2 separate regions of the Homo sapiens genome follow, and region 2 is reported to be linked to region 1. Evidence: microRNA targets listed by miRTarBase, many of them from high-throughput screens and not tested one by one. Region 1 holds a microRNA gene; the other region holds the end of a gene's coding sequence.
The links. Region 1 holds the annotated microRNA hsa-miR-5189-3p (UGCCAACCGUCAGAGCCCAGA, at 2,297-2,317, opposite strand). A microRNA usually pairs through its seed, bases 2 to 8, with sites in the 3' UTR of a target mRNA and lowers its output. Matches are read on the target gene's strand: a 7mer-m8 pairs with bases 2 to 8, a 7mer-A1 pairs with bases 2 to 7 and ends in A, and an 8mer does both.

Region 1 (5,072 bases):
GCGGCCGCTGGCCTTCGCGAGGGTGGAGGTCACACATGGCTGCAGCCCTGGAGGGTCAGCTGGTTGGGAGCTCAGGGAGTCCGGCTCTTGTCTGAATTCTCAGTGCCCATCGCGGTCAGGGCGGAGTAAGTGGAGAGGAAAAGTCTGGTCTATCTATCATGGCTGCAGGGGAGCTGGGCTTTCCTCCTCCCGGCCCCCTCGCTCCTTCAGAAGGCAGCCTCTGGGCAGCCCAGTATGTAGTTGGCAAGGGCACACGGGGAAGGGAATGCCTGTCGCGGAGGCTGGACCCCACCGGGTGAGGTACTGGCATCTGAGCTGGGCCCTGGGTCAGTGCGTCACGCTGCGTCTCCCGCCCCTTCCTGGACGACCTCATCCCCTGCTCGGAGCTCCCACTGTGCGCTCGGCGAGGATGTGTTTCCCTATGCCACATCCTCACCTGTCACTCAGCGTCACCACCCGGCCCTCCACACCGTGCCACATCCTCACCTGTCACTCAGCGTCACCACCCGGCCCTCCACACCGTGCCACATCCTCACGTGTCACTCAGCGTCACCACCCGGCCCTCCACACCGTGCCACATCCTCACCTGTCACTCAGCGTCACCACCCGGCCCTCCACACCGTGCCACATCCTCACCTGTCACTCAGCGTCACCACCCGGCCCTCCACACCGTGCCACATCCTCACCTGTCACTCAGCGTCACCACCCGGCCCTCCACACCGTGCCACATCCTCACCTGTCACTCAGCGTCACCACCCGGCCCTCCACACCGTGCCACATCCTCACCTGTCACTGAGTGTCACCACCCGGCCCTCCACACCACCAGTCCCCCAACAACAGCCTCCCCAGTGGTTCTGCCACAGAGCACGTCAGACCCCTGTGTTCACTCTCCCTCGTTAGGCTGGGGTTCCATGAGGTCACCTGGGGTCCCTGGACCATGCCCAGCACACAGCAGGCACTCAGTACAGGTTTGGAGAGTACAGGGGACACCCGTGGGCATCCAGAGGCTGCCCGCCCCAACCCGTCCAGCAGCCCTGTCCCCAGGACAGGTGGGGTGGCCCTGACAGCAAGGACCCCGCAGGAGTGAGTCACAGCCCCAGCACAGGGACAAGGACCGTGGCTCTCCACAGGCGATGCTCCTACACGGGAGGGGCCTTTGCCCAGGACAATGCTGGCTCTGGAGGCCCTGGCTTTTTCTCCGTTTCCTTTTTCCTTCTGCTTGCTTTGCCTCTGGGGACACAGCCAGGCACAGGGAGCAGATCCAGAAATCAGCTGGGGAGTATTTATGGAGCACCTACTGTATGCCCCAAGCTGTCCTGGGAGAGGACAGAGCTGCCTGCATGTGTGGAGACCCCTCTGCAGACTGGGAGGGCTGCGTGGGGAGATCCTCTGGGCTGGGCACGCACCTCTGACCCTCACCACGTGAGAGGCACTGCACCCCACGTTAGGGGGTGGGGCCCTGGCCAAGGTGATGTCTGGTTCTGGTCGGACGGCCCCTCCCTACTTCCTCTCCTTAGATCTCAGCCCAGACTCTTTCTCTCCTCGCCCCGCCACTATTTTCCACTTACACATTTTTGACAAACACCCACACCTGTGGCTGATTTTCAGGTGCCGTGGGAGCTGACAGGGCCTCCAGCCAGGTCTCAGGCCGGCGGAGCCTGCCTCATCCTGGTCTTGCCAGCAAGACCCACTGTGCAGTGTGGGTGGATGCAGAACACAGGTGCATGCCCCCTAAGGTGTCCTAAGCCCCCTGTAGACATGGTCTCCTGGCACATGAATTTCTGACAATGGGAAATCTGGAAGACCCCAGGTTTCCAGGCTATGCCACAGCCACAGACAGGAGGACCCCCAGAGAACCTGCCACCTCAGCCTCATGGTGTGGAAGGGGAAACTGAGGCCCAGGCCGGCAAGGGGCTTGCTGAAGAGCCCAGAAACCATCCTGGGAGGCAGACCTACTAGACCGCCTTCCGGTTTTACAGATGGGGAGGCTGAGGGTGGGCAAAGGGGTTGGGACTGTCATTCATTAAGATGGTGCCACGTCCCTGGCCCGGCCGGCACTTCAGAAGCTTGGCAGAATGAGGTTCCGGATGGAAGTCAGCGCGGGGAGAGGGTGGAGCGGTGGGGGGCAGCCTGCAGGAGGGTCTGGAGTGGGCCCAGACATGGGGGTGGGAGGCTGGCTGGCCCCAGGGCCGTCCCTGCCGGGTTGTGAAACTCGCTGTTCCCATCTGGGAGTGGCTGCTGGCTGCACTCCTCTCGGGAACTCCTGGGTCCTGGTCCCCAACTGAGGCCACGTGGGTCTGGGCTCTGACGGTTGGCAGGTCATCCAGAGGCCAGCCTGTCCATCCGCCTGTGCCCAGACAGCGAGGCCCCTAAAAGGCGGGCCCTTCCAGAGCCGGTGGTGGTGGTGGCAGAGGTCTCCCGTCCTGGGGCAGGGTCCAGGATGGGAACTACTCCCCCAGGTCAAGGGCAGCCCCTGGAGGAGGCCCTGCCCCCACACAGCAGCTCAGCCAATCCCTGGGCCTCACCCCTGCTCATTTGCATACCCCATTTCCATTGGCTGCCAACAGGCTGGTTAGGACAGTGGTGCCCTGGCCATGGGGGTGGGGCTCTGGGGGGCGGGGCCCTGGGGGTATCAGATTCTGGGTGACTGGTCCCAGCCCCAAGTCTAGGGTCAGAAAGCTGCATGGGGCTGGTGGGGGGCTTCAGTTACAGTGCAGGCTCTCCCCTTTCCTCGAAGGCTCCCTGACATCCATTCAGGGATGACTCTGAGTGGGAAAGATACTGGTCCAAGGTCGTACAGCCAAGAGGCCGGCACAGCTGGGACCTGGCCCCAAGTCCCAACCCCTCTCCAAGGCCGGCCTCTTTTCTCCTGTGGGGGCCTGTTGAGAGCGACTTCTTATTTTTGGCTGCCTTGTTTCAGGGAGGGCTATTTGGGGGCTTTCTTTGCAAAATGATGATGATGATGACTTTCAGAGCACCCCGAGTGCTCAGCTCTCCCTCTAGATCTGGTGGCTCTGTGCGCCGCAGGCAGTGGGCTCGCGGGTGCGTCGGGACGGTGGGCTCGCGGGTGCTTGAGGGGCGGTGGGCTCGCGGGTGCTTGAGGGGCGGTGGGCTCGCGGGTGCGTCAGGGCCTGTGGGCTCGCGGGTGGGTCAGGGGCAGTGGGCTCGCGGGTGCGTGAGGGGCGGTGGGCTCGCAGGTGCGTCAGCGGCCGGTGGGCTCGCGGGTGGGTCGGGGCGGTGGGCTCGCGGGGGCGTGAGGGGCGGTGGGCTCGCGGGTGTGTGAGGGGCGGTGGGGGGCTCGCGGGTGTGCGGGTTGAGAGTGTGTTCTCACTTTTGTTCCTGGCATTAGGGTGGGGTGAGATAAGGGGAAGGGGGGCCGCTCAGCTCGAGCAAGCAGATAGATAACGGCGATAGCACCTCCTCCACCGCACAGCACGCATCGCCCTTTTTTATCAAGTTCTCTTTTCTTCTTTTTCGTTGTAGGGTGGTAGAGTAGAAAACACCCCACCCCCACCTCCCAAAGCCATGGAACTAGGGGGTGGGGGCCTCCCCATCTCAGGTCCCAGCCACAAAGGGCACGGGTCAGCTTAGGGCCCGCTGTGCCCAACACGCCCAGCAGCCAGCCCAGAGCCCGTGACTGGAGGAGGGAGGGGATCCAAGGCAGCTGCGAGGCCCGGGGTCCGGAGGTCCCAGCATGACAGGAGCAGCTGCGCATGTGCCCTGCAAGGCAGGTCTCGCGGTCTACACCATCAGCTCCTTGAAAGGACTCTGAGAGGGCGACTGGCACCCCATTTTATAGGAAAAGGCAGCAAAGCCCAGAGAAGTGAAGTGTCACTGGGGCGGGTGCTGAGCTCCTTCCTCGAGAAGCCCTGGGTGGGCACCGCTGGGAGGGGTGGGGAGACCTCAGGGGGGTTGGCCATGGCCTGCAGGGCAGGCTTAGCGGTGTCGGCCCTATTTGACAGATGAGGAAACTGAGACCTGAGACTCTGGGATGTGTGTGAGAACCAGGGCCATGGGGACAGATGCTGTACCCCCTGCTTGTTTGCTGCGGCTCCTGGTCTGGGTGACTGTGGCAACTATGGGGGACTGACAAGGGGTAGACTCTTGGATCACAGGGACAAATGTTCTGGAGCCACTCTGGCCGCTGTGTGATGGGACGAGGCCCTAGGTGACATCACTGAGGTCATCGGCACACTGTAGCCGTTGGCGGAAAACCGTGCAGGAAGAATGCCAGTAGGATTCAGGGAGGGTGGGCTGCGGGCAGAGAGGGCTTTGGAGAGGTGGCCCCACCCCAGGGACCCTCGCCCCGGCTCGTGTCCCCCCATTAATACCACCGCCGTTTTGGGGTTCACTGAGCCCTGCCGCACAAGGGCCCCAGATGCTTTACCCACTTCTGCCCTAATTCCTCAAAGGCCAAGGAGGCTGGAACTGTGATCATGCCCATGATACAAGTGAGGAAACTGAGAGGCTGCCGGCCAGGGGGCAGGATTTAAACGCTGGTCACTGGAGCTGACATTTACCCCCCTCCCCCACATACACACCCCACTGCACTGGAAATAGCTGACTTCCTTTTAGAATATTGAAACAAAACCAAACCCAAAAGTTAGAAAGAAACCAACTTTCTCACCAAAGGAGCTTATTTTCTGGGGACAGATGAAATGAACCCAAGAAACAAGAATAGAGGCAGGCCAGCCTCCGCCCATCCCCTCCCACTGCCAGGATGGGCTGTGCGGCCCTCAGCCGTCCCCTGCCCTTTCTGTGCTTGGCCTTTCTCCCTGAAAGGTACGGGTGAGCCCCCTGGGAGGCTCGTGGGCTGCCCCCCACTGCAAACACCCCAGAACCTCCAGCCAGGATGGAGACTCTGACCTCGGCTAGACTCTAAGCCAGAAGCCAGGGTCCCTTCTGTTCTCTTCATGCTGTGTGATCTTGGGTGAGTTACTCAACCTCGCTGAGCCTTCAGTTCTCTGAGGAGAATGAGGTCATAGGCGCCCCTCCCAGGGCTGCAGAGTACTCCATGCCAGAACTGCCGGGGCTGGGTAACGGAGCTGTTGTCTAACCACGGCCGCCATCAG
Region 2 (5,070 bases), not on the chromosome of region 1:
AATAAAGTTGACAGCTTTCATGTCCTTAAGATTTTTTTTAAAGTGCCTGTGAAGCATAAAGGAGAACATTGCTAATAATCCAGTAGAAAATAGACAAAGGACATGAGTAGAAAGATAATTCACAAATGAATAGCCATAATAATAATAATAAGAGAAAATCTTCTACCTCACTTGCAATTAATAAATGCAAATTAAAACAGTAAAATATTAGATTTAAAAAAGTTAAATGTAATATGTTTCTTTGTAATAGACTCACAAGGCAATGTCAATTGGAAGACAAGGTCGAGTACAAGTTGAAGATATCGTCTTCTTGATTCGAAAGGACCCAAGGAAGTTTGCCAGGGTTAAAGACTTGCTTACTATGAATGAAGAATTGAAACGAGCTAGAAAAGCATTTGATGAAGCAAATTATGGATCTTGACACTTTTTGTAGTTTCCGAAAATTACCATCTGGGGAAACCATATATAATAATTGTATATTTTCTAAAGTAAGATTCTGATATCTAGCCATGTAAATGAAAGATGGAGAAACACAAAGTTTTCAGCCTTTATTTTTATGCCTTTGATTTTAGGGTGATATTGGTGCATGTAATTGCCTGCCTTTATATTACCATACTTGAATTACTTACTGGGTTTTAATGACCACACATAAGTCAAAGTACCTTGCAAACCATGCCGTTGTTCTGACTTTTGACTATTTAAAGGATAAAGTAGTATTTAATGTGTTAGGTATGTTTATGCCCTTGTAAGCTATACTGTAGCTTTTTTTTTTTTTTTTTTTTTTTTTGAGATGGAGTCTCACTATGTTGGCAGGCTGGAGTGCAGTGGCGTGATCTTGGCTCACTGCAGGCTCCACCTCCCGGGTTCAAGTGATTCTCCTTCCTCAGCCTCTCGAGTAGCTGGGAAGTACAGGCGCCTGCCACCACGCCTGGCTAACTTTTTGTATTTTTAATAGTGACGGGGTTTCACCATGGTAGCCAGGATGGTTTTGATCTCTTGACCTCGTGATCCACCTGCCTCGGCCTCCCAAAGTGCTGGGATTACAGGTGTGAGCCACCGCGCCTGGCCTACTATAGCTGTTTAATATGTGAAATCTAAATGGCATTTTTGACTTGACAGCTCAGACTTGTACTTCATGTATTCAGAAGTTTTTAGACAACAATTAGTTTATTGTCTAGTTCATTATTAAAGATAATGAACTAGGCCGGGCGTGGTGGCTCACACCTGTAATCCCAGCACTTTGGGAGGCTGAGGCGGGCAGATCACTTGAGGCCAGGAGTTCCAGACCAGCCTGGCCAACATGGCAAAACCTCACCTCTACTAAAAATTAAAAAATTAGCCAGGCATGGAGGCATGTGCCTGTAATCCCAGCTACTTGGGAGGCTGAGGCAGAAGAATTGCTTGAACCCAGGAGGCAGAGATTGCAGTGAGCCGAGATGGCGCCACTGCACTCCAGCCTGGGCAATAGAGTGTGACTCTCAAAAAAACAAAGATAATGAACTGGTTTGCATTTCTTTTAAAGAGATGATAGAGGAAAATATAGTTTTTTGTAAGAATGTTTATCTCTCTTAAAAGATAATCTTTTAATTTTCTTCAGATAACAAGTTATTATTATTTTTTAAGAAAGCAAGTTTCACGGGCCGGGCGCGGTGGCTCACGCCTGTAATCCCAGCACTTTGGGAGGCCAAGGCGGGCGGATCACGAGGTCAGGAGATCGAAACCATCCTGGCTAACACGGTGAAACCCCGTCTCTACTAAAAATACAAAAAATTAGCCGGGCGCGGTGGCAGGCGCCTGTAGTCCCAGCTACTTGGGAGGCTGAGGCAGGAGAATGGCGTAAACCTGGGAGGCGGAGCTTGCAGTGAGCCGAGATCGCACCACTGCACTCCAGCCTGGGCGACAGAGCGAGACTCCGTCTCAAAAAAAAAAAAAAGAAAGCAAGTTTCACATGAATAATGCTGTGTTGGAAGGCTTTTTGATTTAAAATCTTTTCGGATTTATAACATCCTGTTAAGTTTTAGGAGAACCCGTTTTCCCAGAGCAGATTCAAGCTTCTAAAAATAAATGCTTTCAGTAGCAGGAATGGCATTGTTTAAAAAGCTGATGGCAGGGTAAGCATTTGGGTTAGTGTTTTATTAACATATTTGTAAGTACTTGTTCATTGTGGAAATGTGTCCTTGACTAAAACCATACGTGGCTATGGAAACCATGTTTGTAGTTCTGAATACACAGGTTTTGTGTGTATTTACTCTATGTATTAAATTATTATTGCCCTTAGTTTAAAGTAAGGATTACAATTGGATTTAAGTAGATCACTGAATGTTATTGTTTATGAAACTTAACTTTTTGTATGCTGCTTATAAACATGATCTATAAATCAGTGCTTGGGAAAATTTTACTTTCTTAATCTACTGATACAGGAATAAAATATGAACAATTAAACAGGTTGATCCTTGAATCTGACTGATTTGTGACTTTTTTTCCTCCCAGAATATTATGCCCATTACTGGTAATATGATAATTCTTGCTGCTTAGTCTAGCTGAAAATTTTTTTTATTTCAGTGAGTATCTGGGTGAATCTTTTCATTTAAAAAAGCAGGACTGGGCCGGGCGCGGTGGCTCAAGCCTGTAATCCCAGCACTTTGGGAGGCCGAGGCAGGTGGATCATGAGGTCAGGAGATCGAGACCATCCTGGCTAACACGGTGAAACCCCATCTCTACTAAAAAATACAAAAAAACTTAGCCGGGTGTGGTGGCGGGCGCCTGTAGTCCCAGCTACTCGGGAGGCTGAGGCAGGAGAATGGCGTGAACCCGGGAGGCGGAGCTTGCAGTGAGCCAAGATCACGCCACTGCACTTCAGCCTGGGGGACAGAGCGAGACCCCGTATCAAAAAAAAAAAAAAAAAAAAAAAGCAGGACTGGGCACCATGGCCCATGCCTATAATCCCAGCACTTTGGGAGGCCTAGGCAGGAGGATCTCTTGAGCCCAGGAGTTGGAGACCAGTCTGGGCAACATAGAGAGACCCCATCTCAACTAAAAATCAAGGCCAGGCACAGTGCCTCACACTTGTAATCCCAGCACTTTGGGAGGCCAAGGCAGGTGGATCACTTGAGGTCAGGAGTTCCAGACCAGCCTGGCCAACATGGTGAAACCCTGTCTCTACTAAAAATACAAAAAAATTAGCCGGGCGTGGTGGCATGCCTGTAGTCCCAGCTGCTTGGGAGGCTGAGGCGAGAGGATTGCTTGAGCCCAGGAGTTGGAGACCAGCCTAGGCAAGCCCCATCTCTGTAAAAAAAAAAAAAGAGCCAGGCACAGTGGTTTCCGCTTGTGGTCCTAGCTACTCAGGAGGTGAGGTGGGAGAATCACTTGAGCCTGAGAGGTCAAGGCTTCAGTAAACTGCTCACTCTGTCACCCAGGCTGGAGTGCAGTGGCACAATCACTGCTCACTGCCTCGACCTCCTGTGCTCAAATAATCCTCCCACCTCAGCCTCCCGAGTAGCTGGGACTACAGGCATGCCTGGCTAGAGAACCTATTTCACTGTGTTGCCCAGACTGAGTGGGGCTTTGCGTTGACTATTTTAGGTTGCAAGTGATATAACTTAACTCAATACTATTAATAGCATAAACAAGGAATTTATTGGCTTACCTAACCGACACATGGGAAAGGGGATGGAGCTGAATTTAGGGTTGACTGGATCTAAGTACTTGAGAAGCAAGACTGTCTCTCTGTCTTTTATCCTAATTTTGGTTTTATTCTAAGAGTGGCAAATGAACATGATGGCCAGCAGTTCTGGGGTTCCCTCCTTACAACTCCAAATTGAAGAAGCTGCTTTACTTCGTAATAGAGAAAATTCCAAGCAAGGATTATGAGGATCCGAGCTCTGCTTATTTTCTTCCTGGACCAGTCACTATGGCCAGGAAGAAGTTGTACTATAGCCCGGATCTCTTGCCCCACTTCTGGTAAAAAAGAGCTTGGAATGGGATTGGGATACTAGATACTGCTATTAGCAAAAAGGGGAAAGAGGCTCGGCGGGCTGACTTGATGCCTGAGCTTACTTATTAACTTCAAATTCTGGTAGTAAGGTGGCATGGCTGTCTTCCAGTATTTAGAGCTGCACTGTGTAAATGGTAGCCACTAGCCACATATGGCTGTTTACATTTTAAAATGAAAAATTCAGCTGGGTGCGGTAGCTCACGCCTGTAATCCCAGCTTTTTAGGAGGCCAAGACAGGCAGATCACTTGAGGTCAGAAGTTCAAGACCAGCCTGGCCAACATGATGAAACACCATCTCTACCAAAAATACAAAAATTAGCCGGGTGTGGTGGTACGTGCCTGTAATCCCAGCTACTCGGGTGGCTGAGGCAGGAGAATTGCTTGAACCCAGGAGGCAGAGGCTGCAGTGATCCGAGATCGTACCACTGCACTCCAGACTGGGCAACAGAGTGAGACTCTGTCTCAAAAAATAAAATATTTAAAAAATGATAATAAAATGAAAAATTCACTTCCTTAGTTGCGTTTGCTATATTTCAAGTGCTCAAAACCCTTATGGTAAGTGGGTACAGCATTGGACAGTGCTGATATGGAACACTGCCATCATCACAGAAAATTCTTTTGGACAGTGCTGATCTGGAGTATATATAGGTGCTCTCTCCTAAATTAATTCACTTTTTTTTAAACTTCCTATGGAAAATCTCAAGTATACACAATAATAGTGTAACTAGCCCCCAGCTTCAACAAGTAACCAACTTTTTGCCAATTTGTCCTATCCCCCTACCTTTAAATAATTTTCTTATTTTTAATTTTGGACCTTGGTTTTAGAACCCTTACCTTTTTTAAGGTAGGGGGGCAGTATTATTTTAAAGCAAATCTGGCTGGGTGCGATGGCTCATGCCTATATTCCCAAAACTTTGGGAGGCCAAGGCGAATGGATCACCTGAGGTCAGGAGTTCAAGACCAGCCTGGCCAACACAGTGAAACCCTGTCTCTAATAAAAATACAAAAATTAGATGGGCATAGTCGCGGGAGCCTGTAATCCCAACTATTCGAGAGTCAGGCAAAAGAATCCCTTG

Region 2: miRTarBase lists TAF13 as a target of hsa-miR-5189-3p. The part of its 3' UTR that is shown has no 7-base or 8-base seed match.

The regions. Positions count from the first base shown.
Region 1 is chr16:88,466,229-88,471,300 of GRCh38, reverse strand. It overlaps MIR5189 (microRNA 5189), which reads right to left and starts at 2,383; the gene lies at 2,270-2,383. All of the region lies in intron 1 of ZFPM1 (zinc finger protein, FOG family member 1), which reads right to left.
Region 2 is chr1:109,059,874-109,064,943 of GRCh38, reverse strand. TAF13 (TATA-box binding protein associated factor 13) reads left to right here. Exons shown (of 4, transcript NM_005645.4): 4 at 251-804. The coding sequence ends at 421. Among named protein-coding and RNA genes, the nearest start is that of TAF13, 14 kb to the left of the region's middle.